Linked DNA regions of Homo sapiens. The protein of the gene in region 1 purifies or fractionates together with the protein of each later gene. This does not show direct contact. Each region holds a gene or a part of one and is shown on either strand. Other genes may lie near its edges. The genes, in order: PNLDC1, TMX1, GALNT12, TRPM7, CSGALNACT2, SIDT2 and C1QL1.

The links.
Region 2: the proteins of PNLDC1 (region 1) and TMX1 purify together in Homo sapiens (affinity purification with mass spectrometry; one large-scale study listed by BioGRID and IntAct). This does not show direct contact.
Region 3: the proteins of PNLDC1 (region 1) and GALNT12 purify together in Homo sapiens (affinity purification with mass spectrometry; one large-scale study listed by BioGRID and IntAct). This does not show direct contact.
Region 4: the proteins of PNLDC1 (region 1) and TRPM7 purify together in Homo sapiens (affinity purification with mass spectrometry; 2 studies listed by BioGRID and IntAct, with this or other methods). This does not show direct contact.
Region 5: the proteins of PNLDC1 (region 1) and CSGALNACT2 purify together in Homo sapiens (affinity purification with mass spectrometry; 2 studies listed by BioGRID and IntAct, with this or other methods). This does not show direct contact.
Region 6: the proteins of PNLDC1 (region 1) and SIDT2 purify together in Homo sapiens (affinity purification with mass spectrometry; one large-scale study listed by BioGRID and IntAct). This does not show direct contact.
Region 7: the proteins of PNLDC1 (region 1) and C1QL1 purify together in Homo sapiens (affinity purification with mass spectrometry; 2 studies listed by BioGRID and IntAct, with this or other methods). This does not show direct contact.

What each region holds. Positions count from the first base shown.
Region 1 is NC_000006.12:159,817,276-159,821,204, reverse strand, and holds the end of PNLDC1 (poly(A)-specific ribonuclease PNLDC1), read right to left. Parts: intron 2,651-3,929; coding exon 2,551-2,650; intron 2,260-2,550; coding exon 2,084-2,259; intron 1,952-2,083; coding exon 1,853-1,951; intron 752-1,852; coding exon 688-751; 3' UTR 501-687; downstream 1-500. UniProt on the Homo sapiens protein: 3'-exoribonuclease that has a preference for poly(A) tails of mRNAs, thereby efficiently degrading poly(A) tails.
Region 2 is NC_000014.9:51,246,747-51,250,246, forward strand, and holds part of TMX1 (thioredoxin-related transmembrane protein 1 precursor), read left to right. Parts: intron 1-345; coding exon 346-474; intron 475-2,579; coding exon 2,580-2,625; intron 2,626-2,721; coding exon 2,722-2,823; intron 2,824-2,946; coding exon 2,947-3,019; intron 3,020-3,500. UniProt on the Homo sapiens protein: Thiredoxin domain-containing protein that participates in various redox reactions through the reversible oxidation of its active center dithiol to a disulfide and catalyze dithiol-disulfide exchange reactions.
Region 3 is NC_000009.12:98,838,670-98,842,169, reverse strand, and holds part of GALNT12 (polypeptide N-acetylgalactosaminyltransferase 12), read right to left. Parts: intron 2,169-3,500; coding exon 2,037-2,168; intron 1-2,036. UniProt on the Homo sapiens protein: Catalyzes the initial reaction in O-linked oligosaccharide biosynthesis, the transfer of an N-acetyl-D-galactosamine residue to a serine or threonine residue on the protein receptor.
Region 4 is NC_000015.10:50,610,298-50,613,797, forward strand, and holds part of TRPM7 (transient receptor potential cation channel subfamily M member 7), read right to left. Parts: coding exon 3,410-3,500; intron 2,533-3,409; coding exon 2,252-2,532; intron 1,025-2,251; coding exon 796-1,024; intron 1-795. UniProt on the Homo sapiens protein: Bifunctional protein that combines an ion channel with an intrinsic kinase domain, enabling it to modulate cellular functions either by conducting ions through the pore or by phosphorylating downstream proteins via its kinase domain.
Region 5 is NC_000010.11:43,148,445-43,151,944, reverse strand, and holds part of CSGALNACT2 (chondroitin sulfate N-acetylgalactosaminyltransferase 2), read right to left. Parts: intron 2,159-3,500; exon of another isoform or gene 1,802-2,158; intron 1-1,801. UniProt on the Homo sapiens protein: Transfers 1,4-N-acetylgalactosamine (GalNAc) from UDP-GalNAc to the non-reducing end of glucuronic acid (GlcUA). Required for addition of the first GalNAc to the core tetrasaccharide linker and for elongation of chondroitin chains.
Region 6 is NC_000011.10:117,181,743-117,185,242, forward strand, and holds part of SIDT2 (SID1 transmembrane family member 2 precursor), read left to right. Parts: intron 1-64; coding exon 65-229; intron 230-317; coding exon 318-363; intron 364-776; coding exon 777-878; intron 879-980; coding exon 981-1,064; intron 1,065-2,036; coding exon 2,037-2,136; intron 2,137-2,331; coding exon 2,332-2,397; intron 2,398-3,500.
Region 7 is NC_000017.11:44,962,249-44,965,303, reverse strand, and holds part of C1QL1 (C1q-related factor precursor), read left to right. Parts: intron 1-3,055. UniProt on the Homo sapiens protein: May regulate the number of excitatory synapses that are formed on hippocampus neurons. Has no effect on inhibitory synapses.

The DNA.
Region 1 (3,929 bases):
CCAGGCTAAATTTCAATCAGCTTTGCAGAGCCCACAAGTGAAGCTCCAGGTTGAGCAAAGAGCCCAGCCGAGTCGAGATCCCCACAGAGAAAAGTTACCGAGAAAGCTGAGTGTAGTGCAGACCACTGTGGAGGACACAGTGTCCCACTGTGCCAACGTCAAAGGTGCACACTGTGGCTGCGGGTCATTGTTTCTAAATGCACGTGGATGTCTTACGGTTTATAACACTTGTCAAAAATGTCCCCAGTGCACACGACTTCCCCTCTTCCAAGCTTCACATCCTTCCTTTACTAAACTTAGGAAGGCCATTTCTCAGAACTAAGTCAACAACAGCCAATAATAAGCCATTAGTTTTTCCCCCAGAAATAACGTCCCCTTTTCTTCATCTGGTGTCCAGCTCCTAGCACAATGACCTGCTCCTGAGACATTAGCTTAAATCTCGAGGTGCTGACTGCTCCGCCTGCATTTATAGCAAGAAAAGTTCTGACCACACATACAGGTACGATATCTAAGGACTGATTTATCATTGAGAGTGTTGACAGAATTTCACGTTCAGGACATAACAGAATTTCTAGAAAAGACCAAACAGATCCATCTGCAAACAGAATCTGATTTACACGAACACACCCAGCACACCTCCCAGAGAGCATGGGGACCCGAGGGTGGCCGCAGGAGGCCTCGCTGCACTCAGGTACCAGATCTTCCAAGGATGAACGCGAGAAGGGCCCAGGCAGTCACTATGCCACAGACTCTGCAAGACAATGACACGTGTCAGTGGCCGGGGCACCCAGCAGGCCGAGAGGCACCGACACAGGCTTGCCCCTCCTCCTTCCCAGCCCCGTGCACTCAGATGTTCTTTCTTGCTGTCACTCTCCCGACGACAACACTGAACTTCTGCCTCTCGAGGTTAGGCTGGCTCTGGGATGCAAACCGCAGGTTGAAAGAAAAAGGGTTTGCCTCGGAGCTCACTGTGCTTCCTCAGCAATGCTGTTTTCTAACGGATGTGCCCCTAACCCGCAAGCCAGAACCTCACCCAGCTCAACTGACAGCAACTCTGCCTTTCCAGCTGTTCAGGACTCAAACCCTGGATTCGTACTTGATCCTTCTCTGGTCTGTCGCTGACTCCACCCCGCTGCCCCTGGCTGCACCGAGCTGTGACCCAGCTGAAGCATCTCCTTCCTGACTGCTCTCACAGCGTCTCGCCTCCACAGTCTACCCCAACACGGAAGACAACCTGAGTCGGGTTATAGACCTTCTTGCTGTAACTTCCGCGATTCCCTCTCTCCTGAGAGAAGCCCACGTCCTCCCTGGGTGGCCCCCAGCTGGGGGGCACTGGTTCCTTCTCCTGCATCCCCCTCCTTGCTGTTTTGCTCACAATGGCCTCTCCCCGTGACACTCCGGGCACCTCCTGACTGGAAGGCTCCGTCCTGCTGCCCCCTCCGCCTGGCTCACTCCAAGTCTCTAATGAAGACCCCCATCAGCTCCTTTGAACTGCAGCCTGCCACCCACTCCTGACCCTTCTCTCATTTTTAATAAACACTTGTCACCCAACACATTATAGGGTCCATTTGTTTATCCTGTTTGTCTCCCCCAGCACGTGAGCTCCACGAGAGCAGGGATTTTCTGCTTCACTGACGAGGCCCTAGAACTACGATGGTGCCCAGCACAGCAGGTGCTCGACAGACACGCGGCATCACTGAAGGACATTCAGGGCACCACACTCGTCAACACAACCCCCTTGGCAACACACACCAGCAAGTGAGCTGTGCTCGAGTCAGACCATGCTGGGATGCTGGGACCCCGGGCACTCCAGGACCCCAGGACAGGCAGGTGGCCTCAGCCTGTCACTTACTGGAGCAGGCAGTTGACGTTTGGGGAGTGCCTCCAGTAGCGGTACAGGGAGATGCACAGGGTCGGGTGGTCCCGGTACTCCTTCAGGATGTTCCGCGCACTGCCAAAACAAGTTTGCTGTGGTCAGCCAGGCAGCAGGATGGCGCCGCCTGCTGTGATCAGGCGGGTGGAGTCAGAGAGATACAGGGATGAACGCACGAGGGGTGGGGGACGCGGACTTAGAGGCACCTACTCCTTAAACTTATTGGTCAGGAGTAAGAACTGGCTTCTTGTGAGTCGCCTGACATCAAACTTGCAGAGATTCTGAAACTTATGGTAGACTTGCTGCTCGCTGACCCCAGGCCACCTTTTGACGCTGAGGATGAGGATGGGAGGTCGGATACTGGGATAATCTGGACCAGAAAAATTCTAGAAAACATGCAGAACACAAGAGATTTTCCACAGTTCTTCCTGACTTCTTATCCAGTCTGAAGATCTCAAAAGAAACTAGGAAAGGCTCTGCTTGGGGCAGGGAGGGGAAGAGAAGGAAGGATGAGTCCATGTTGGCTTTAGTGGAGAAACATGAGAGGAAAGAAAAACCCAGCTCTCATCTCACCGACCACCGAAATCCCTCTCACGAGTCCCAGAGAGCACTGGCCGCTTCCCAGCAAAGCCTCTGAACTCTGAATGGGGCGAGGGGGCCAAATGAGATCTACTCACGATCTTTGGGACCCCCGCTCGGATGAGGTTCACTTGGTTCACGTAAGGAGCCAGCACGTCAAGGTACTGAGGAAAGGATGACTCGGGCACGGGGTCGATGCTGCAAGGACAGAAAACCCCAAAGCTGTCGGGCGCACAGAAGTTCATCCACTTCCTCGGCCACAGCCAAGAATCCGGTGACAGAACAGAAGGACACTCCCTCGGACGGCTCTCCCTCCCTCCTGCCCTCACAAGTCTTGGGGCTCTGGTTGGGTGCTTCCCCAGCTGGCAAGTCTAAAAGCATTCTCCGTGGCCACATAGAAGAAGAGCTTCCAGACAGTCACCATCTGCTGGTGATGGTTTGGTGAGGGTCCCACTGGTGACAAACAGCAATAGGCTCAGAGAATCAGTGCGAGGCCACTATTCAGAGAAAGCCCCATGCTGTCCCCCCTTGGTAAGACATCACCTTTGATTCCAAAAGGGCATCCCTCATCCCACAGCCTCCTCCCACTGCCAGTGCCCCCTCTGTCCAGGGAGCACACACACCTGAGCGCAGGGCCCCGGCAAAACCACGGGCCACACAGACAGGCAGGGAGGGCTTTTAGGCCATGAGGATTAAAAGAAATAAAAGATGTGTGACACCAGGCACTGAGGTGCCCCACCACTGCTAGCTCCTTCACTGTCCAGCACACACGTACTTACCAGGGGGCCCTTTAACAGTCAAACCACAAGAGAGGGGGTTAGGCTGGCACATTTAAGAAATAAGCTTCCCATCCGTGTGTCACAGAACTTTTGTATTTATAACATCCACTGCTAAAATGGACAAATATAGGCAGTACCCAAGTTAATAGATCATAGTCCAAAAAGATATTTCTACATCAATCCCAAAGCACACATTAGAATTTTGATGGGCTCCTTCACCTGGCTGGCTAAGTCCTACTTAACTAACGTGCATGCCAAGGACGGTGCTGTAGCGTGCACGCTGCTAATGTGTTTCTGGTGCCTACGTGCCCAGGGCTGCAGGCATCAAAGATGGTGTTGCCATGGGGAAATGCACTGAAGATTCCAATGTGGGGTTCCACTAATCTCTCCCTAGCCTATGTGCCCCCAACAAAGGATATGTCATTCATTGACCTGAACACTTTCTCCTCATACCTCACTGTTGCTTACATGGCTATAAGAAAGCAAGTGAGAGACAATCAAGCACACACCAGGCTGGGAAGGACTGAGACAGGTGTCAGAACCTAAGCCTAACCCCACTGCCTTGGCCTCCTGACATCTGCGGGGATGAGGGGGCCAGGACCCATACAGGCAGGCACAGGGGTGGTAGGAAGGGCTACTCCTGTGGCACAGAGCCATTTGTGGGCTGCTGCCCAGTCAGGGACAAGATTTCTATACCA
Region 2 (3,500 bases), on another chromosome or scaffold:
CTATTCTAATAATTTTTATATAATTCTTTTAATATGTGTATTACACATAAGGCTTAAAAGTACTTTCCTGAGATTTATCTACTTACTGTATTTCATAGTTTCATTACTTGGAAGAATAACAGTAATTACATTTTAAGGCTTATGATTTAAAAAAATGTAACCTCATTGTTAAATTGGGGGCTAAAATGTCATGAGTAGGTAAATAGTATAATTTGCTATTAATACTTGTACATTGCTAATGCTTTTGAATGTTAGAATTGACTGTAAAGTGAAGTGAAAAAATAGCAAAATAAATATTAAATTATTTCTCAGTGCTGGATAATATTTAATTCTGATTCTCTTTAGTTGTAAAGATGGTGAATTTAGGCGCTATCAGGGTCCAAGGACTAAGAAGGACTTCATAAACTTTATAAGTGATAAAGAGTGGAAGAGTATTGAGCCCGTTTCATCATGGTTTGGTCCAGGTTCTGTTCTGTAAGTATGAGGGCTTTTTCTCTTACCCATTTCATAATTAATTGGAACAGATAATTATATTTTATGTAAAGCATTCATACTCAGTTTGTTTCTTGAGCTGTTAAGGTATATCCACATTTATTACATGTTTGATTTTTTTTTTTTTTTTTTTTTTGAGATGGAGTCTTGCTCTGTCGCCCAGGCTGGAGTGCAGTGGCGCAATCTCGGCTCACTGCAAGCTCTGCCTCCTGGGTTCACGCCATTCTCCTGCCTCAGCCTCCCGAGTAGCTGGGACTACAGGTGCCCACCGCCACACGTGGCTAATTTTTTTGTATTTTTAGTAGAGACGGGGTTTCACTGTGTTAGCCAGGATGGTCTTGATCTCCTGACCTCGTGATTTGCCCACCTCGGCCTCCCAGAGTGCTGGGATTACAGGTGTGAGCCACTATGCACGGCCTACATGTTTGATCTTTTTAGTTTGACCTTCTAAGTCAAACATATTTTCATGCTTCTTGAGTTAGAGAAGGCATTTTATAGAAGTAAGTTGTACACCTTTTCAGGAATATTTTAGCTTGCTAGATTTGGTCATATGTATCATCAAAAACTAAATGCCCCTAAGAGTCTTCACAGTGTAATGGGTAAAGCTATCACTCGAGTGTAATAATTTGAATGAGTAGGCTCAAACTTGTACTCATGCTACCTCCAGACTTCAATTTGTCTTTTAATGTTCTGTCTCCATAGAGACCGTCAATAATTGCCGATACCAACTAAATTAATTACATAAACTTCAACTCTTGATGTCAAGCGACTGAATTATGTTTGGTTGGTTATTCCACCTGTCTGATAACTTCTTATATGAATAGTGTGTATAAACGGTGACCGTAATAGTGTGCCTAAGCACTGAGCTTTATAGATATCTAGAGGGTAGATGAATTTCCTCGTAGCAACTGGCTATGGAGTGATAAGGATTGGAAGTAGCAAGCATGCTTTCTGCTTTGCTGTTGGAGTACAAGGCCTCACTGGTCATGTGAGAGACCTCTGGGAACAGTGAGTTTTGCTGAGGTCACCATGGACTGATCCTGTGTGGCCATCTGTCTCTTCCTGTCCTCTCACCACACTTACCTTTGGAGGATAGGGAGTTGGGACAGTAATCACATAAGAGAAAAATGCTCTAGATTCTGGGGATGGGAGAAAGATTAGCCCTGTTAACACTCACCCATTGAACTACCATGCCCAACTCAATTTTGGATCCTACTGTTTCTGAAATAAATTACTGCAGACTACAGTGAGGCTATACAGTGCTTTATGTTTCAGTTCCTTGTTTCTCTTCTCACTTGGCTTTTAAACAACAGAAGCAACATGATTAAAATACCTTTCTGTGTCGAACTAAAAGTATAACTGATTTTTGTTCTCTGAAATCTCATCTCATAAATGAATCTTGTCCTTCCAGTAGAAGAAAGTAGTTGCTTGTAAGTCTATTTTCAAGCAGCTACAATTGGGAACTCACAGACCTTTCTTATTTCTGAAACATGCCTTTTTAAAACTGGCCATTTAATTATGTAAAATACTAATTTTTGCTTATATGATGACTTAGCATTTATTTCCTATGTAATAATTTTGTATATCATTAAAAGATGTCAAACTAATGCTCTTGTAAATTTTAATTAATTTCAATAAAAAAGAGGGATAGTTCTTAAATGGAAAGAATTGGCTTGACAATTGTTTCCAGTCCTTACTTTAGCCTCCCTTTGGTCTTGCTTTGAAGGCTTTTAAGGGTGAGTAAGAGTTGCCTTTTCCAACTGGTTTCATGGAACTTGTAACCCTTTACTCAGTGTATTGGAGAAATCATCAGATGAAATACAAAATATTAACATCAAAACAGTGGGAGAAAAGGAAAAAAATACTGTCAAGTATTTTTATTTATGAGGCTGTCACATGGTAGTGTCAATTTAGAAACAGTTTTCATGAAGAAGGCTTATTACAGGCATGAAATCAGTGATGTGTCACTAGTCTTGATTAACAGCAATAAAATCTGTCATATTGGGGAAATTATAGAGTAGAAAATAGTATGTATAGACAAATCTGTGTATGTTACTCAGTTTTTTAATCATCTCTTTTATTTTTAGGATGAGTAGTATGTCAGCACTCTTTCAGCTATCTATGTGGATCAGGGTATGGACTAAAATATTTTTATCTTAAACATTTTTACCACTATCACTTTAACAAAAATGAACAGATTTTTAGTTTTTTTTTTTCTTTTGATTTTAGACTTGCCATAACTACTTTATTGAAGACCTTGGATTGCCAGTGTGGGGATCATATACTGTTTTTGCTTTAGCAACTCTGTTTTCCGGACTGTTATTAGGACTCGTAAGTATTTCATTTTTGGAGTGCTAGGAAGAAAGATATTTAAAAATGTGATTATTTAAAATAGTTACATTAGCTGTGGCATATATTCTACATTCAGATTTCTTACAATGTTTATTTTTACAGTGTATGATATTTGTGGCAGATTGCCTTTGTCCTTCAAAAAGGCGCAGACCACAGCCGTACCCATACCCTTCAAGTAAGTATATTTTAAAATGTTTATTTTTTATTCACGATAGTCCTATTCATTTCTGTAATCACAATCACACATTTCACAGGTTGCTCTTCCAGCTTAGAATTCTAACTGTGGATTGTTGGTCTTTATCAGCTATGGCATAAAGGAAGGTAGAGGAGATGTATATTTCATATAAGAATGTAGCCCAGTGGATTTTGGAACATTGTTATTTTCTTGACTCTTATATTATGGGGAATTTTAACATTGCATATAGCATGTAGCTATTTAATAATATTTATTTGGTGTCGTTTTATAAGTGGAGTATATTCTACTCTTGAAGTCTTTCATTAGTATACCGGCCGCCACATTTGAAGATTATTCTTTGAATGCCAGCCAACTGTAAGTTTTTTCTGGTAGGATATTGGGAAAAGCAATCCCTATAGTTGATTTAGGATGCCACTGACACTGAACTGTACTACAGAACAATTTAAATAATTACAAGCAT
Region 3 (3,500 bases), on another chromosome or scaffold:
ATTGAAGCACACCGGCTATTTAAACACCCATTAGTTTACAATGACACTCAAGAAGAGAAAAAGCCAAAAAAAACAATGAGCCACAACAAAAAAAAAAACAACCCAGTAGATACAACTGGAGGAAACTAAAATACCAACTCTTACTCTGAAAATAAGCAAATAAAGAAAAGACTTAAGAATTTGTTATGCCTTGGCCGGGCATGGTGGCTCATGCCTGTAATCCCAATAGTTTGGGAGGCTGAGGCAGGCAGATCACCTGAGGTCAGTAGTTCAAGACCAGCCTGGCCAACATAGTGAAACCCCGTCTCTGCTAAAAATACAAAAAAAAAAAATTAGCCAGGCATGGTGGCAGGTGCCTATAATCCCAGCTACTCGGGAGGCTGAGGCAGGAGAATTGCTTGAACCCATGAGGCAGAGGTTGCAGTGAGCTGAGAGCGCGCCATTGCACTCCAGCCTGGGGGACAAGAGCAAGACTTTTCTCTCAAAAAAAAAAAAAAGAATTTGTCGTGCCTTTTCTGTATGAATTCTAAAACTCACATATACCAAATTGCTTTAGTTAATGAGGGAGTGTTCTTCTTTATGAAAAATTTCAGCTAATAAATGTGGAAGAAATGAAAGAGAAAAATCACCATTTGGCAACTCCATTTGAAATAATGGGCCTAGGCAATGGTTATCAGTGGCTACTAAAAACATGAGACAGAGGCTGATGGGGGTCTTATAATGACTGGTCCAGGTGAGGGATACTCCATTAACCCACTGGTCAACCTTATCACTAAAGATGACCATACTTCCTATGCTCCTGATATGACACAACATGAACACATAACATCACCCACAAAGTGTTCTTGCCAAAAAGGTGGATCCTGACTCTAATCAAACCTTTAGAACTCACTTCTATCTTAAAGAAATATGGGGGAGAGAGGCACAACTTGAAGACACCACAAAGAAAAAAATAGCAATTGCAAGAGTGAGACACTCCACAGGTAACATATTGTTTTTTCAACAAGTTAAAGATATTAACAAGAAAAAGGAAGAGGGCTGCCTTAGATTAAAAGAGATTTAGGAGACAAGACACAACCATCACATGCAATGTGTGCACCTTGTTTGGATCCCAATTCGAATTAGCCAGCCACTCAAAGAGAAACTGGAAAAGTTGGGGGAATATGTATTAGAACTAGACATTAAATGATACCAAGAAATACTTGTTCATTTCTACGGTTTTGTAAGATAATGTCCAAATGTTATGAAAATGCATAAAATGCAGAGGAGAGAAATGACACAATGCCCGGGATTTGCTTAAAAAGAGGAAAATGTGGAGGTGAAGTACAGGAGAGAGAAAGAGATAAAGAGAGGCAGGATCTTGAAAATTCTAGAATCTCAGGGATGGTATTCATTATACCATTCTCATACCATTCTCTCTGCATTTCTATATGTTTGAATATTTTCATAATGAAAATAGAATGTAACATGAATATCCTGCTTTATATGTATCAAAGACTTCTAGAATGGAACACCAGCACTTCTGATCAACACATCACAGCAGAGGAGACCTTGCTAAGCTGGTGTCATTCCCAGCAAAAACAAAAGACACTGGACATTTTATCTGGTCTCATCCCAAAAACATTTTTTAGGTTTTTTGAAATACTCGAAGTGACTCCCCTATACCCACTATTGCCTCTGTAGACTTCCAAACTTGGAATTATTAACTAGTCCAGCCATTGAGACTAGAAGTAATATGATAAGGCGTTGGTAAAAACTAGGACATGGAAACACCAGATAAGCCTCAGTTTCCTTACCTACAAAATAGTTGTCAATTTTGAGATGGCTTCCAGCTCTGACATTCTGCACCTACGGCCCAGACGCTCACAGGGAGAAAGAAGGGCAGTGGATAAAAAGGTGGTGGGGGGTGGGCAGGCGGGTGGGAGTGGAGGAAGCCAGTGCTCCCCATGACGTGGCCTTTCTTGCCCAGGATTTGCAGAGCAGACCCAGAGGCCAGGGAAGTCCCTGCCTGCCGTGGGCCCACCACCCTCACTCACCATCCCGAAGAAGCCAGGCCTGTCCTCAGGCACATGCAGTTCTGGATACACAGTCTCCAAGAACCACTTGAAGTCTTTACACTGGAGCTTGTCCCGGAGCTGCTTCCTCTCTGTCACATCCCCAAAAGGTTCCTGAGAAAACAACAAAACAGTGAGACCCCATGGGTCCTAGTGCTTCCTTTCAAAGCCCCTGTGTTCACTGATGCTCACTTACTAACCACCAGCCAGCTTTGATGGAGCATTCGTCGCATGCCAGGCCCTGTGTGGAGCACAGAGGATAGAAAACATCCTTGCACCTAATTCTAGCTTCTAGTATGAGAGGCTGTCACACAGACAATTCCATTCCTAGGTGCTCTGTTGGCAGGGGGGTGTGACCAGGTGCACAAGGGTAGAGGACAACCCGCCTGCTGATGGAGTGAAGGAGCCAAGCCCTGGGGCTGCACTGGCATCTATGGATCCCGGACCTGTGACCCATGCTTGTGATCAGAAGTCATCCTGAAACCCAACCAGGGAAATGTCAGTTTCACCGAAACATATGCCATGACTTTCTGGTTTACTACTAATATCTGAATATCCACTTTCAAACACAGGTAAATATTCTAGATGTAATCATGTTCTCAGTATGAAATAAGCAAAAAGAAATACTTATGCAAGTTTGGTTTTATGGGCAAAACTAATGACTGAGAGCTTTTGAATAATTAAATACAGCAAGCCTCTATTTAGTATCGCAAATGTGCAGCCACAAGAAAAATGCTGAGTGCAGAAATATTACCGTACCTGCACTGTCATGTTAAACAATTAAAAGCTGACAAGTTAAATATTGAACAAAATGGTAATAATAAGTACATGTTTGAATAAGATTTCAGATTTCTGCTATTTCCCAGAGTTCTTTCACTGGTGAAAGTCACTGCGCCCCCAGCTTCAGCCAAGTATCCATTTAGCACTTGGCCTTGGACATGAAGCCTAAGGGTGCATTCAGTGCCCCCCTAAAATATTCTCTGGGAACCCTCAGGAAAAGGGAACTATGGGTTCCAGACTGTGCATGAGGAAAGAGTGGGTGTTTCTACTCTATGGTGCTGGGCAAGACGGAGGAGGCAGAAGCAAATGACCATGGAGCCCAGAGCCAGAGAGGGGCTGAGTGGGAGTCCAGCTGAGAACCCATGGGCTCTGCAGAGCAGAGCAAGAGGTGCGCTGCAGAGTACAGGCCCCAAGCCCAGTTCTACCTCCTATCAGCCACAGGGCCTGGACAAGTTCCTTCCAACAGCGTCTCTCTGAGCTTCAGTTTTCTCATCTATAAAATGAGAATTTTATTGCTACCCTGCAGGGTTGCTGGAAGGACTCAGAAGAGACTTCCATGAAGTGGCCTGATGAGAAGCCTTAGAGCAAGACCTTCTTGTATTGCCAAGCAGCCCTACTAGTTATGCAAATGCAGGGCAAGCAGGCACCCTGCCATGGAGCATGCAG
Region 4 (3,500 bases), on another chromosome or scaffold:
CAAGCCTTATAAAGGTGCTATGTCCTTAATTTTATCCTAAATCTCTTTGCAAGTGTTCCATGTCATAATGTGATTACTCAGCTTGTGCCTCTATAAACAAAAAGGTTTATTTCTAAAATTTTACTTATTACTTGCAAAATCCCAAAGCATGAAGAAATTGTAATTGTGTAACAGGTTTTCTGTTGGTTATTCAGTGGCCTATGGTTAAACTATTTGCCTGATTTCTGACTCCTACATTTCTGCACCTTATTTTAAAAGATATAAGATAACAAAAAGCAAAGTTCAAAGCAGTATCTATCACCATGACAAAACCAAAGGTACATGCCATTTTACCCAAATTTTTAATCATAAAAACAGGCCACATGGATATACTTATCTATAATGGGTATATCAATATACTCATCCAATATACTTTAAGTAACTTAAAAGTAACAGATTATTAAATTAGTAGATAGGTCTTGAATTTCAGAATTTGGGAATAATCTTTTCATAAAGTAGTAACTTTTTTCAAGGCTGCTAGGGGCCATAATCTCCAATATTTGCCATTTGTTCCCCTTCTAGCTCAAAGAGAGGCCATAATCATTATAGACACCTGAAAAGGATTCAAAAGTTAAGTAGAGGAAAAAAGAAGCCCATTATACCACTTGGGATGAAATGCCAATCATCCATCTTGCTCCCTCTTTACCCCCCACCATTACACTCACACATCAAGGCATTTTACTACACATTTAGACTAATTCTTCTGTTCTTTTTATCTAATCACATGCTTTATATCAAATTATTTCTAAAGTATACCTTGTACCAGGAATTTTTCCTCATATTCAGCCTTCCCATCCACATATCAGATAACAACATTTGTGTACAGGTGTGAGCTACAAAAGGTCTAAGTCTTGAAGAAACTGCTAACTTAAGGCAGGTTGAATTACTCCAGTTCTTCAGTTCATAAGTGAGCAATTTCATAGCCATGGTTTCATCTTGTCTGAAGGACTGTTCTAATAATTCAACGGCCAACTGACCAAAATCACTATAAAAAGATAAAAGCCAAAATATACTCAGATTAACAAACTGCAATTTTAAACCACTATTCTTATATACATTAATACTTCCTACTTTTTAATATTCTCACACACACTTACAGAATTATGAGGCATTAAAACCATAACTCTGTTTTCAGACATCTACATCTATGTGGAAATCACAAAATATTAAAATATGTCGCATTATGTACAAGATTGAGAAGGTGAATCCAGAGCACATTCTCCCGGTCCTAGAAATCAAACTATAATCTCAAAGGGAATCAAAACTCACAATGCTACAATGCTCTGTTCAAAAAAGTTTATGTAGTATTTCAAACACAGAAAACAGTTGGTACCTGGTAGAGAGGAAAAACAATGTGACTAGGGACTAACCTAATTATGAAAAACATCTGAATCTTGAAGTCCCACTAAGTAACCATAGGATCCCTGTTAAAGAGTTATTTTCAGTAACAATTATCACTGCCCTCTAAATACCCCACTTGGGGAGCCGGAGGTCTTAGTATATATTAGAAAACTTCTACAAACTACTTTTCCAGTTTAATATTCCAACACTGCCCCTCTAAGTAAATTGTAAACTTTTATGAACTATGTCGTTACTCTGTGTATGTAGTTCTAGCTTCTGAAGTGCCTTCCCAGTTGAATTCAGTCTATTTTCTTATAACACAGCTCCAACTTCACTTCCACCCTTTCCTTACCAATTCAAATGGAACTTTCTAATCCAATTGCTACTATTTGCAAAAATTAAAATGAATTCTGGCATTTCTTCTTTGTTTCGAGACAGGGTCTATTGCTGTCACCTAGGCTGGAGTGCAATGGCATGATCACAGCTCACTGCAGCCTTAACCTCCCAGGCTCAAGTGATCCTTCCACCTCAGCCTCCTGAGTAGCTGGGACCACAGACAAGTACCACCACACCCAGTTAATTTTTAAATTTCATGTAGAGACGGGGTCTGCCTATGTTGCCCAGGCTGCATTTCTTCTTTCTTGCTGAGATATTTAATTCTTGAGTTGCAAATATAATAACCTCTTTTTCATAGAGGCAGAAAGTTTCTTTTAATTAAAAAAATATATACTTATATAATTTTCTGTCAATTGTACCAATAAGATTATACATATAAATACATCACCATTAAGTACGTGGCACTGTAACAGCCACTCAAACAATACCTACTTTGAATTTTTAAAATGTTTTCAAATGATAAAATACCACTTACTTGGAATACTGTTTTAGTTCTTCTGAAGTATCATCTACCAGGTCACTCTGCTTTGCTTCATATGCCATTGAACGATAGATCTTACAGGCAACTAATGCTTTAGCCATTGATTCTTCACCATGTTGCCATAAAAAACGGGCCATGACCTGCCTCTTCATAAGGCAAGCCCAAATTAAAAGTTCATTAAGTGGATAAGGAAAGCGCTTGGTTTCTGGATCATCAATGTCTACAATTTCATCTTTGGTTCTTTTCTTCTTTCCTTCTTCCATAACTGTATCAATCTTCCAGGGAAAATAAAGTTATAAAGCTCATTATAATAAGGCCATATGAAATTTATGTCAGTGAAAATTTTAGTAAAATATCTTTACATTATTCAGCTCCATAAAACTGCACAATAGCATAAATTTTATAAACTTGATTTTTATTATAGCTCATAATTCATTTTATGAAAATGCTGTTTCAACAAAAATGCCTTTGCAATAAACATTTTCCAAAATTTAAGGGCCTAAATATTTCAACTAATATTCTAATAGAACATAATTTTAATAAAGGGTTAGATAACATTTTTGTTATACATGTTCTTAATCAAGTAAAACTGGAATGAAAGGAGTCAGGTAAACATTTATTAAAACATTTTAATTTGGTTATTATCATACCTAAATATGAAAATGTACGCTGGGCGCGGTGGCCCACGCCTGTAATCCCAGCAGTTTGGGAGGCTGAGGAGGATGGATCACGAGGTCAAGAGATCGAGACCATACTGGCCAACATGGTGAAACCCAGTCTCTACTAAAAATACAAAAAATTAGCCAGTGTAGTGCTGGGTGCCTGTAGTCTCAGCTACTCGGGAGGCTGAGGCAGGAGAATCACTCGAACCTGGGAGGTGGAGGTTGCAGTGAGCCAAAATTGTGCCACTACACTCCAGCCTGGTGACAGAGCAAGACTCCTGTCTCAAAAAAAAAAAAAAAAAAAAAAAGGAACAGAATCATTAACTTATAATTAATATCTCTGTGTGTGAGAAAATGACAATTCTAGGACATATCCAAAAACGAAAGGTAATTCTTACTAAATCAATTAGTTTTTTTTGTTTAATAATACTAAGTAATTTAGAAAGAAGAAAATAAAAACCCAGAAAGAATAATATTTAAATAAATTTACCTTTGGTCGGTAGGGCTGTGCTGTCTTAATGAAATGGTTATGCCTCATTTTTTCCTTTTTATCTGCCCTATTGCCAAAAGATTCATGACTC
Region 5 (3,500 bases), on another chromosome or scaffold:
TCTTGAAACAACCAAAAACAAACAAACAACTTTTCCTGCCAACAAACCCAAAATATGAAACAATGATTTTCAAGATATTTAACATCAGGTAACAAAGGACAGTGATCCCCAGAGAAACAAGAAACAAGTGGTTGCCAGCTTACTGCCTTAGTTTCTGAGCCACACAAGGAGGGGAACCTAAGCAGAGCCCAGCAGATTCCCTGAGTTCATGGGATGCAGCTCATAGTCTGAAGAGACCAAGGTATCTAGGATTAAAGCATATAGTACCAGAGTGGATACAGCTGCACACAGAGAGAACTCCAGAAATCTGAATAGGATATCCCATGGGTATTTGGCAGAGCACTGATAAGTAAAGGCTTATGAGGCAACTAACGGGCTAAGGAAAGGACCACACACAAAATTAGAGGACACAGAACCCAGCATTCATACAGGGCCAGGATTAGTGCATGTTCCCAACAGACAGACTGGAAAACCTCAGAATTCCCAGGGCACTCGGTAGAGCACTCAAAAAAATCTTGTCTCAGTAGTGGGAAATAATTAGCTCTAGACTAAACATGGCACTAATCCTGCCAATACATCTTAAAAGCAAGACTTGAAAGGATCACATTATTTCCAAGTAATAGCACAACAAGCCTTAAGAATATTTATAAGAATACAGAAATATCCAGTACTCAACAAAATAAAATTCACAATATCTGGCATCTCAACAAAAATTACCAGGTATAAAAAAATATGATCCATAATGAAAAAAATCAACAATTAAAACTGACCAATGATTAGAACTGACAGATGTGGGAATCTGCAGAAAAAGGACACCAAAACAGCTATCATAACTGTATTTTTAAAATGATGTTTATGTTCAAAAATTTAAGTAGAGGTATGAATGACATAAAAGAGATCCAAGTTAAACTTCAGGAGATGAAAATTTCAGTGTCTGAGATGAAAAATACACTGAATGGGATTAATGGCAGATTAGATATTTTAGAAGAAAATATTAGTAAACTAGAGATGTAGCAAAAGAAACTATGCAACATACAGAAAGAAAAAAGAATCAAAAATATAAACAAAGCATTGATAAGCTCTGTGACAACTTCAAACAGCCTAATATACATGTAACTGGAGTCCCCAAAGAAGGGGGAAGGAGTCAGGAGAAATACTTAAACAAATAAGGCTGAAAATTTCCCAAATTTGATGGAAACTATAAACACACATAAGAAGCTCAACCAATCCCAAATAGCCATAAAGAAAATTATAGCAAGGTACATGATAATCAAATTGCTCAAATCCAATGTAAAGAGAAAATCTTTAAACTGGCCACATGAAAAATGCACATCACATACAAGGAACAAAAGATAATAATGACAGATTACTCTTTGAAAACTGAAAGTAATTAGACAGTGGAACAATGATCTTTAAAGAACTAAAAAGAAAAATATGCCAGCCTACAATTCTATACCCAGAGAAATTATCTTTGAAAAAGGCAAAATACTTTCTCTACATAAAAAGCTAAAGGAATTCATCACCATCATACCTGTACTGTAAGTCTTTTAGGCAGAGGAACATAATACCAGAAAGGAATATGGATTTATACAAAGCAATGAAAAACATCATTAATGTTAACGACATTGGTAACTAAGATTTTTGCTCATTATTATCTAAATCTCTTCAAAAGATAACTGAATAAAATGGACAAAATCCTAGAAAGATAGAAACTAACAAAACTGATTTAAGAAGAAATACCAGATATGAATAGACTTATATGACAAAAGATTGAATTAATAATAATAAAAAAACTACTCACAATGAAAAGTCCAGGCCAAGAGGCTTCACTGGTGGAATGTACCAAACATTTATTTATTATTACTATTATTTTTTTTGAGACAGAGTTTCGCTCTTGTTGCCCAGGCTGGAGTGCAATGGCGCGATCTCAGCTCACCGCAACCTCCGCCTCCCACGTTCAAGGGATTCTCCTGCCTCAGCCTGCCGAGTAGCTAGGATTACAGGCATGCACCACCACGCCTGGCTAATTCTGTATTTTTAGTAGAGATGGGGTTTCTCCATGTTGGTCAGGCTGGTCTTGAACTCTCGACCTCAGGTGATCCACCCGCCTCAGCCTCGAAAAGTGCTGGGATCACAGGCGTGAGCCACCACACCCAGCCTAGCAAACATTTAAATAAGAATTATTATTATTAAATAAGAATTATCTTCACAGACTCTTCCAAAAAATAGAAGAGGAAGCATTCTATAAGGTCAGTATCATCCTGCTACCAAATCCAGACATTAAAAGAAAACCATAGGCCAATATCCTATATGAATATAAATACAAAAATCCTCAACAAAATACTAGCAAAACGAACCCAGCAATATATAAGAGGAATCATACATCATGGCCAAATAAGATTTATCCCAGGACTGCAAGGTTGGTTTAACATCTGAAAATCAATTAATGCAATATACCATATCAATAGAAGACAAAATTCACTTGATCATCTCAACAGACATGGAAAAAGCATTTGACAAAATCCAACACCATTTCCTAATAAAAACCATTCAATAGGGGCTGGGTGCGGTGGCTCACACCTGTAATTCCAGCACTTTGGAAGGCCGAGGTGGGCAGATCCCACGAGGTCAGGAGATAGAGACCATCCTGGCTAGCACAATGAAACCCCGCCTCTACTAAAAATACAAAAAATTAGCCGGGTGTGGTGGTGGCATGCACCTGCAGTCCCAGCTACTCAGGAGGCTGAGTTAGGAGAATCACATGGACCTGGGAGGCGGAGGTTGCAGTGAGCCGAGATCACGCCACTGCACTGCAGCCTGGGCGACAAAGCGAGACTCCATCTCAAAAAACCAAACCAAACCAAACCAAACACCATTCAATAAACTAGAAGACACCTTCCTAATCTAAGAAAAGGGACCTACAAAAAACCCATAGCTAACATTGTATTTAATGATGAAAGACTGTATGCCTTCCCCCAAGATCAGGAATAAGACAAGGATGTCTGTTCTTGTCACTTCTATTTATATTGTACTAGAGGAGGTTGTAGCCAAGGCAATTAGGCAAGAAAATGAAATAAAAGGCATCCAGATTGAAAAGGAAGAAGTAAAACTATCCTTATTTGCAGATGATATGATCTGTATGCAGAAAATCCTAAGGAATTCACTAAAAATCTATTATAACTAATAAATGAGTTCAGCCAGTTGTAGGATACAATATCGATATACAAAAATCAATTGTATTTCTCTACATTAGCAACAAGCAATCTGAAAATGAAATTAAAAAAACAATCCTGTATACAATATGGCATCAAAAAGAATAAAATAGGAATAATGTTAACAAAAGAACTGCAAGACTTGTATTCATAGAAACTACAAAACATTGTTGGAAGAAAGTTAAGATTTAAATAAACAGAAAGACACCACACTCATGATTGGAAGGCTTAATATTGCTAAAATGGTAATATTCCCCAATTAATGTACAGATTAAACACAATCCTCTT
Region 6 (3,500 bases), on another chromosome or scaffold:
TCCTCTGGAGGGGCAGGCCGGCTGGGACAGTGCTCACATCCTATCTCCCTGCTTCGGGCCATAGGTTTCAGCGCAAGTACCTCTACCAAAAAGTGGAACGAACCCTGTGTCAGCCCCCCACCAAGAATGAGTCGGAGATTCAGTTCTTCTACGTGGATGTGTCCACCCTGTCACCAGTCAACACCACATACCAGCTCCGGGTCAGCCGCATGGACGATTTTGTGCTCAGGTCTGCAGGGTAGAGTGAGGGGACCACGGGGGCTGGTTCTTCCCCAGGCTCCGGGGGTGACTGGTGGGGGCTCTTCTCTGCCCTGCAGGACTGGGGAGCAGTTCAGCTTCAATACCACAGCAGCACAGCCCCAGGTAACATCTCCCTGTTGATTGCTCGAGAGGAGAAATGGGGGAGCTTGAATATGAGAATGGGAGTGGCCAGCGGTCTTTGCTTGGCCTTTTGAATTGGCTGTTTTCTCCATGGAGGGCTCTCTGGAAACAGGAGCTCTGGCCCTGACATGGTGAGGGACAGACAGCATGGGACTGTACAGAGACATGGAGTCTGGTTGCCTCTCTGGCATTCTGCTGAGTGCCCTGCTGAGGTTGAAGGGAATGGTATACAGAGAAAGGGGCTGCTGTGATCAAGGCCTGTCTCCTCGGAGAGCCTCCACTGCCCACCCCTCAGAGGATTCTGGGTCCTCGCTTATAGGGGACTATTCCCTTCTAGAGGGGCCAAGAGAGCATCCTCATGAGATGGGGCTCTCCCTTCCTTCCTGCACCCTCAGTACTTCAAGTATGAGTTCCCTGAAGGCGTGGACTCGGTAATTGTCAAGGTGACCTCCAACAAGGCCTTCCCCTGCTCAGTCATCTCCATTCAGGATGTGCTGGTGAGTTGCCTGCCCTTTTGCTCTTCCCCAGCAGGCAGCAGGGCTGCTAAAGAGAGGGGCAGGCCAGGTTCCCATCCATCTGCCTCTCCCGCCCCTCTGCAGTGTCCTGTCTATGACCTGGACAACAACGTAGCCTTCATCGGCATGTACCAGACGATGACCAAGAAGGCGGCCATCACCGTACAGGTAGGAAATGCATGTGGCCACGTGGGAGGTGTGGCTGGGCGATAAGCTGTGTAGCTTTCCAAACTTGAGCTCTTCTTCCTCTGCCCATTCCTATCCTACACACGACTGAGTCTTTGGCCTTCCAGTCCCTGTGACTTTGAGTCCCCTGATATATATGAGAGTTGTACCATAATCCCAGTTGCTCTTGGGGATGGGAAAGAGTAGAGTACCCCCTTCTGGCTGTCATACCTACTTCATTCATTGTAACAATAAGAGGGCTGAGCGCGGTGGCTCATTCCTGTAATCCCAGCACTTTGGGAGGCCGAGGTGGGCGGATCACCTGAGATCAGGAGTTCAAGACCAGCCTGGCCAACAGGCTGAAACCCCGTCTCTACTAAAAATACGAAAAATTAGCTGGGCATGGTGGCGCATGCCTGTAATCCCAGCTACTCGGGAGGCTGAGTCAGGAGAATCACTTGAACCTGGGAGACAGAGGTTGCAGTGAGCCGAGATCACACCACTGCACTCCAGCCTGGGCAAAAGGAGTGAAACTCTGTCTCAAGAAAAAAAAGGTCAGGCGCAGTGGCTCACGCCTGTAATCCCACACTTCGGGAGGCTGAGGCGGGCAGATCACCTGAGATCAGGCGTTCAAGACCAGCCTGGCCAACATGGTGAAACCCCATCTCTACTAAAAACATAAAAATTAGCTGGGCGTGGTGATGGACGCCTGTAATCCCAGCTACTTGGGAGGTTGAAGCAGGAGAATTGTTTGAACCCGGGAGGCGGAGGTTGCAGTGAGCTGAGATCATGCCATGGCACTCCAGCCTAGGCAATAGGAGTGAAACTCCGTCTCAAAAAAAAAAAAAATCTTGTGAGGATTAAGTAAAATATATCTATGAAGAATTTAGCATAATGTCTGGCCCCAGAACAAGTATTTAGAAAAGAATGATGATGATGATGATGAAGAAGATATTTATCATCATCATCCTGCAGCGCAAAGACTTCCCCAGCAACAGCTTTTATGTGGTGGTGGTGGTGAAGACCGAAGACCAAGCCTGCGGGGGCTCCCTGCCTTTCTACCCCTTCGCAGAAGGTACATTTTGTGCCCTGGGCCTGGCTAGGGATGGGGAGGTCTTGGTCACTTTCTGGGAGCAAGAAGAGCCTGCGTGGCTGATTGGTGGACCTGATAGGACATGGGTTTTTGGCTCCAGTCTCTCAAAGGCCTGATCCCACTGACTCTAGCCAAGCTCCAGGCAACTAGTTTACCACTTTGACATTTTACTTCCAGATGAACCGGTCGATCAAGGGCACCGCCAGAAAACCCTGTCAGTGCTGGTGTCTCAAGCAGTCACGTGTGAGTGCTGCAGGTGGCTGAGAGGGGATGGACAAGCCTCTCTGGCTCCTGCTTTCAGACCTGGGATATAGGGTGTGCCCTGAAGTGGGTGATGAGGATGCAGATATGCTGGTGGGGTAGGAACGGGGAGTGTTCTTGGCAGGCTTCTAGATGGGGAGGGCCGGGAGGTGAGTTCCAGTGTGATGTGGTACAGAGAGTTCATGACTAAAGATGGAAGAACTGAGGTCCAGTTCACTTTCTGCCACTTATCAGCAGTGTAACCTGATTGTAAGAAAGAGCTTTAATTTTGCTTTGTTAGCATAGTTATAATCTTATTTATTCTGAAGGATGTTTCTTAATCTCATATTCAGAAACATACCCTAATTTGTCATTGAAACACTGCTATAAGATTGAGTCTCAGTTTCCCTGTCTCTATAACAGAGGGAGTAAAATTTGTCCAGTTAATCTCACTAAGTTATGAGGGCTAGCACAAAATTAGCAGATAAAATTAGCAGGAAAGTACCAGGCCCCTACTCAGTGCTCAATAAATATTTACTGAATGATTAAATGGGGCCCTAAGGGACTGTGATAGGAGGGGAAAGAAGGTGCCTCTCTTTCTTTTTTTGAGATGGACTCTTGCTCTGTCACCCAGGCTGTAATGCAGTGGCAAGATCTCTACTCACTGCAATCTCCGCCTCCCGGGTTCAAATGATTCTCCTGCCTCAGCCTCCTGAGTTGCTGGGATTACAGGCACCTGCCGCCATGCCCAGCTAATTTTTGTATTTTTAGTAGAGACGGGGGTTTCACCATGTTGGCCAGGCTGGTCTTGAACTCTTGACCTCAGGTGATCCGCCCACCTTGGCCTCCCAGAGTGTGGGATTACAGGCATGAGCCACCGTGCCCAGCCAGAGGGTGCCTCTCTCTCTCTCTCTTTTTTTTTTTTTTTTCCGAGATGGAGTCTTGCTCTGTTGCCCAGGCTGGAGTGCAGTGGCGCAATCTCGGCTTACTGCAAGCTCCACCTCCCAGGTTCACGCCATTCTCCTGCCTCAGCCTACCGAGTAGCTGGGACTACAGGTGCCCGCCACCACGCCCGGCTAATTTTTTGTATTTTTAGTAGAGAAGGA
Region 7 (3,055 bases), on another chromosome or scaffold:
ACGGTGGCTCACGCCTGTAATCCCAGCACTTTGGGAGGCCGAGGCAAGTGGATCATGAGGTCAGGAGATCAAGACCATCCTGGCTAACACGGTGAAACCCCATCTCTACTAAAAATACAAAAAATTAGCTGGGCGTGGTGGCAGGCACCTGTAGTCCCAGCTACTTGGGAGGCTAAGGCGGGAGAATGGCGTGAACCCGGGAGGCGGAGCTTGCAGTGAGCTGAGATCGCGCCACTGCACTACAGCCTGGGTGACAGAGCGAGACTCCGTCTCAAAAAAAAAAAAAAATACAAACATTAGCTGGGCGTGATGGTGCATACCTGTAATCCCAGTTAGTCAGGAGGCTGAGGCAAGAGAATAACTTGAACCCAGGAGGCAGAGGTTGCAATGAGGTGAGATCTCGCCACTGTACTCTAGCCTGGGCAACAGAGTGAGACTCTGTCTCAAAAAAAAAAGAAAAGAAAAGAAAAGATAAAAACGAAAAGAAAAGAAAACCAGGAGAAATAGTGGGGCCCGTAGCCCCCTCTCCCATGTCCTTTATGACTTCTTCCAAATTGCCCAAGAGACTCATTTGATCTCACTAGCCATCCCACTTGTTAGTTTTGAGCCCCTACTAGGAGCCAGATTTGAGGCTTTGTAGGAGTTCAGTCCACTTGCCCTCCAAGACCTCATGGCCTATGCAGGGGGAACATTCATAACATACAACCACACGCCCCAGCGAATACTGTGTTAAAGGTGGGCTGGGAGCCCAGCTGATGACTTTGGTCCCCAAATGTGTTGGCTGGGAGGGAGTGCTTCAGTAGGGCCTACCCTGGTGCAGACCAACCTGATGCAGGGGGAGAAGATGGTGAACCTTGGTCTGCAAAGTGAGGAGATACCACAAGGGAGAATATAAAAGGTCAAGTGTAGGGGAAAGCCAGCTCAGAGGTGGACAAGGACATTTAAATAAGCAGAGAAAAAAATGGCAGGACCAGACAATGTATGGGAACAAAAGAGAGAAGCTTGTATCTCTTGTGACTTCAGAACCAGGGGCCACCCTGAGCACTGCGCTTTTCCTTCCTGGCTTCCTGCCTGTAGAGAGGCTTCCAGAATTTCTTTAGGGAGGCAGAGCTGAATCTGGGCTCTGCCTCCTCTCCGGGCAAGTTCGGGATGGGGAGCACCACCTTCATGCCTGGCACTGAGGCTCCCTCTGTCCTTATCTGAGGCCCACTGGCCCCAGTCCTTAGGGGTAGCCTTGCATCAGCACCCCTGATGGCACCAAGTCCTGGCCATTAGGATGCAAGGAGCCTGGGGAAAGGACTCTGGGTTGGCAGTGGGGCCCTGGGTGTGGTGAGTTGCCTGCAGCTGCCTCCAAGATCCACAGTTCAGGTGGGTTGGAGAGGACACAAAATTAATAAACTGGGCAGGGGGCTTTGTGAGGATGTGCCAGGGCCTGTGGTCAGGGTGCTGCTTATCCAGGGTAGGAGGCTGTGGGGAGGTGAGTATCACCAATGGGCCAGGGGTTTGACAACAGAATCTGAGTGTGGCGAGAGGTGCTGGCATATATAAATTGAAGGTGGTGGTATAAAGACCTAAGAAGGCTGTGCACAGTGGCTCACGCCTGTAATCCCAGCACTTTGGGAGGCTGAGGCGGGCGGATCACCAGAGGTCAGGAGTTCGAGACCAGCCTGTCTAACATGGTGAAACCCTGTCTCTACTAAAAATACAAAAAAACATAGCCGGGTGTGGTGGTGGGTGCCTGTAATTCCAGTTACTCGGGAGGCTGAGGTAGGAGAATCACTTGAACCTGGGAAGTGGAAGTTGCAGTGAGCCAAGATCGCACCACTGCACTCCATCCTGGGTGACAGAGCAAGACTCTGTCTCAAAAAAGAAAAAAGACCTAAGGAGATCAGCCTCTCCCCTGGTGGTGGCAGATGGCCCCCTGGCTATCCTTTCTGGCCCCTAATACCTTTCACAACACAGAGCACAGTGCCTGGCACAGTGGGAATGCAGTTAATGTATGTATGAAAATGCAAGTGTCCCCCATGGGCCAGGCTGGCTCCCCTATGGGAGCCACATCTGTACACCCAAGACCCCAGCATTGATCTGAGGGCAGGAACGTGTTTCCTGGATGCCCTCTCACCCAGTTCCCTTGGTCAGACCATTGCCTCAGTTTCCCCTCCTGGCAGCCCTTGAGGAGCTGATTATACAGCGCTCCCTCATAACAAGGCCCAAACCTGCTTTCCTGCTTCCTTGGCAACCTCATTTCCCCACACTTCCCCTTGGACCCCAGGAGGAGCTGCAGGCCTCAACTGTCTCCAGTCAGGCAGAGAATTGGGACCCCTGGGTTCCATTCTTGGATCCCCCACCATCTAAGGATGGAAGGGCATAAATTCTCTCTGCCTCCATGGATAATTAGGATAATTACGGCAACAATCATGGTGATGAATAAATAATAAACATAAGCATAACAGTTCTGATGCAGTCACATCACCAGGAGATTCCTGATGACAGATGACTCTGTTCCAATGGATTTGGCTATTAAGGAGCACACTGTTTTAATGAGTTAAGGCTAAATTAATCTGGGCAATAAAAATAATTGTTATTAGTAGTAATTTATTAGCAAAGATAATGAAATGCATGTGTAATAATAAATATTACCAGGATTAGGGCTCAGGGAACAATACAGAAGTTGGCTGTTTGCTTTCAGCTCTTCCCTAATAACTCAAAGCCCCATCAAGATCTAATGTTTTTTTTTCTTTATCATCAAAAGACTTTTACAGAGGTGGCAGTGGTGAGGCAAAGTCTTCTCATCCATTTTCTAGACAGAGAAACTGAGCTCCTTGGCAGACAGCATCTCCCCCTTCATTTATTCCCTCCCACCTTTAACTAGACCAGTTTTCCCAGCTAAGCACACAAAGAGTTTCTTCTCAGGTTGGGAAGAAGAGGTTGAGGGAAAAGAAGGGGCTGGAGAAGGGCTTTAAAGGGAGGCCCTCATGCAAATATGTCGGGTCCTCTTCATTGCAGCATCGCGGCTGAGTCAGCAGCTCTGGCACAGCTGACCTGCAGTGCTGCC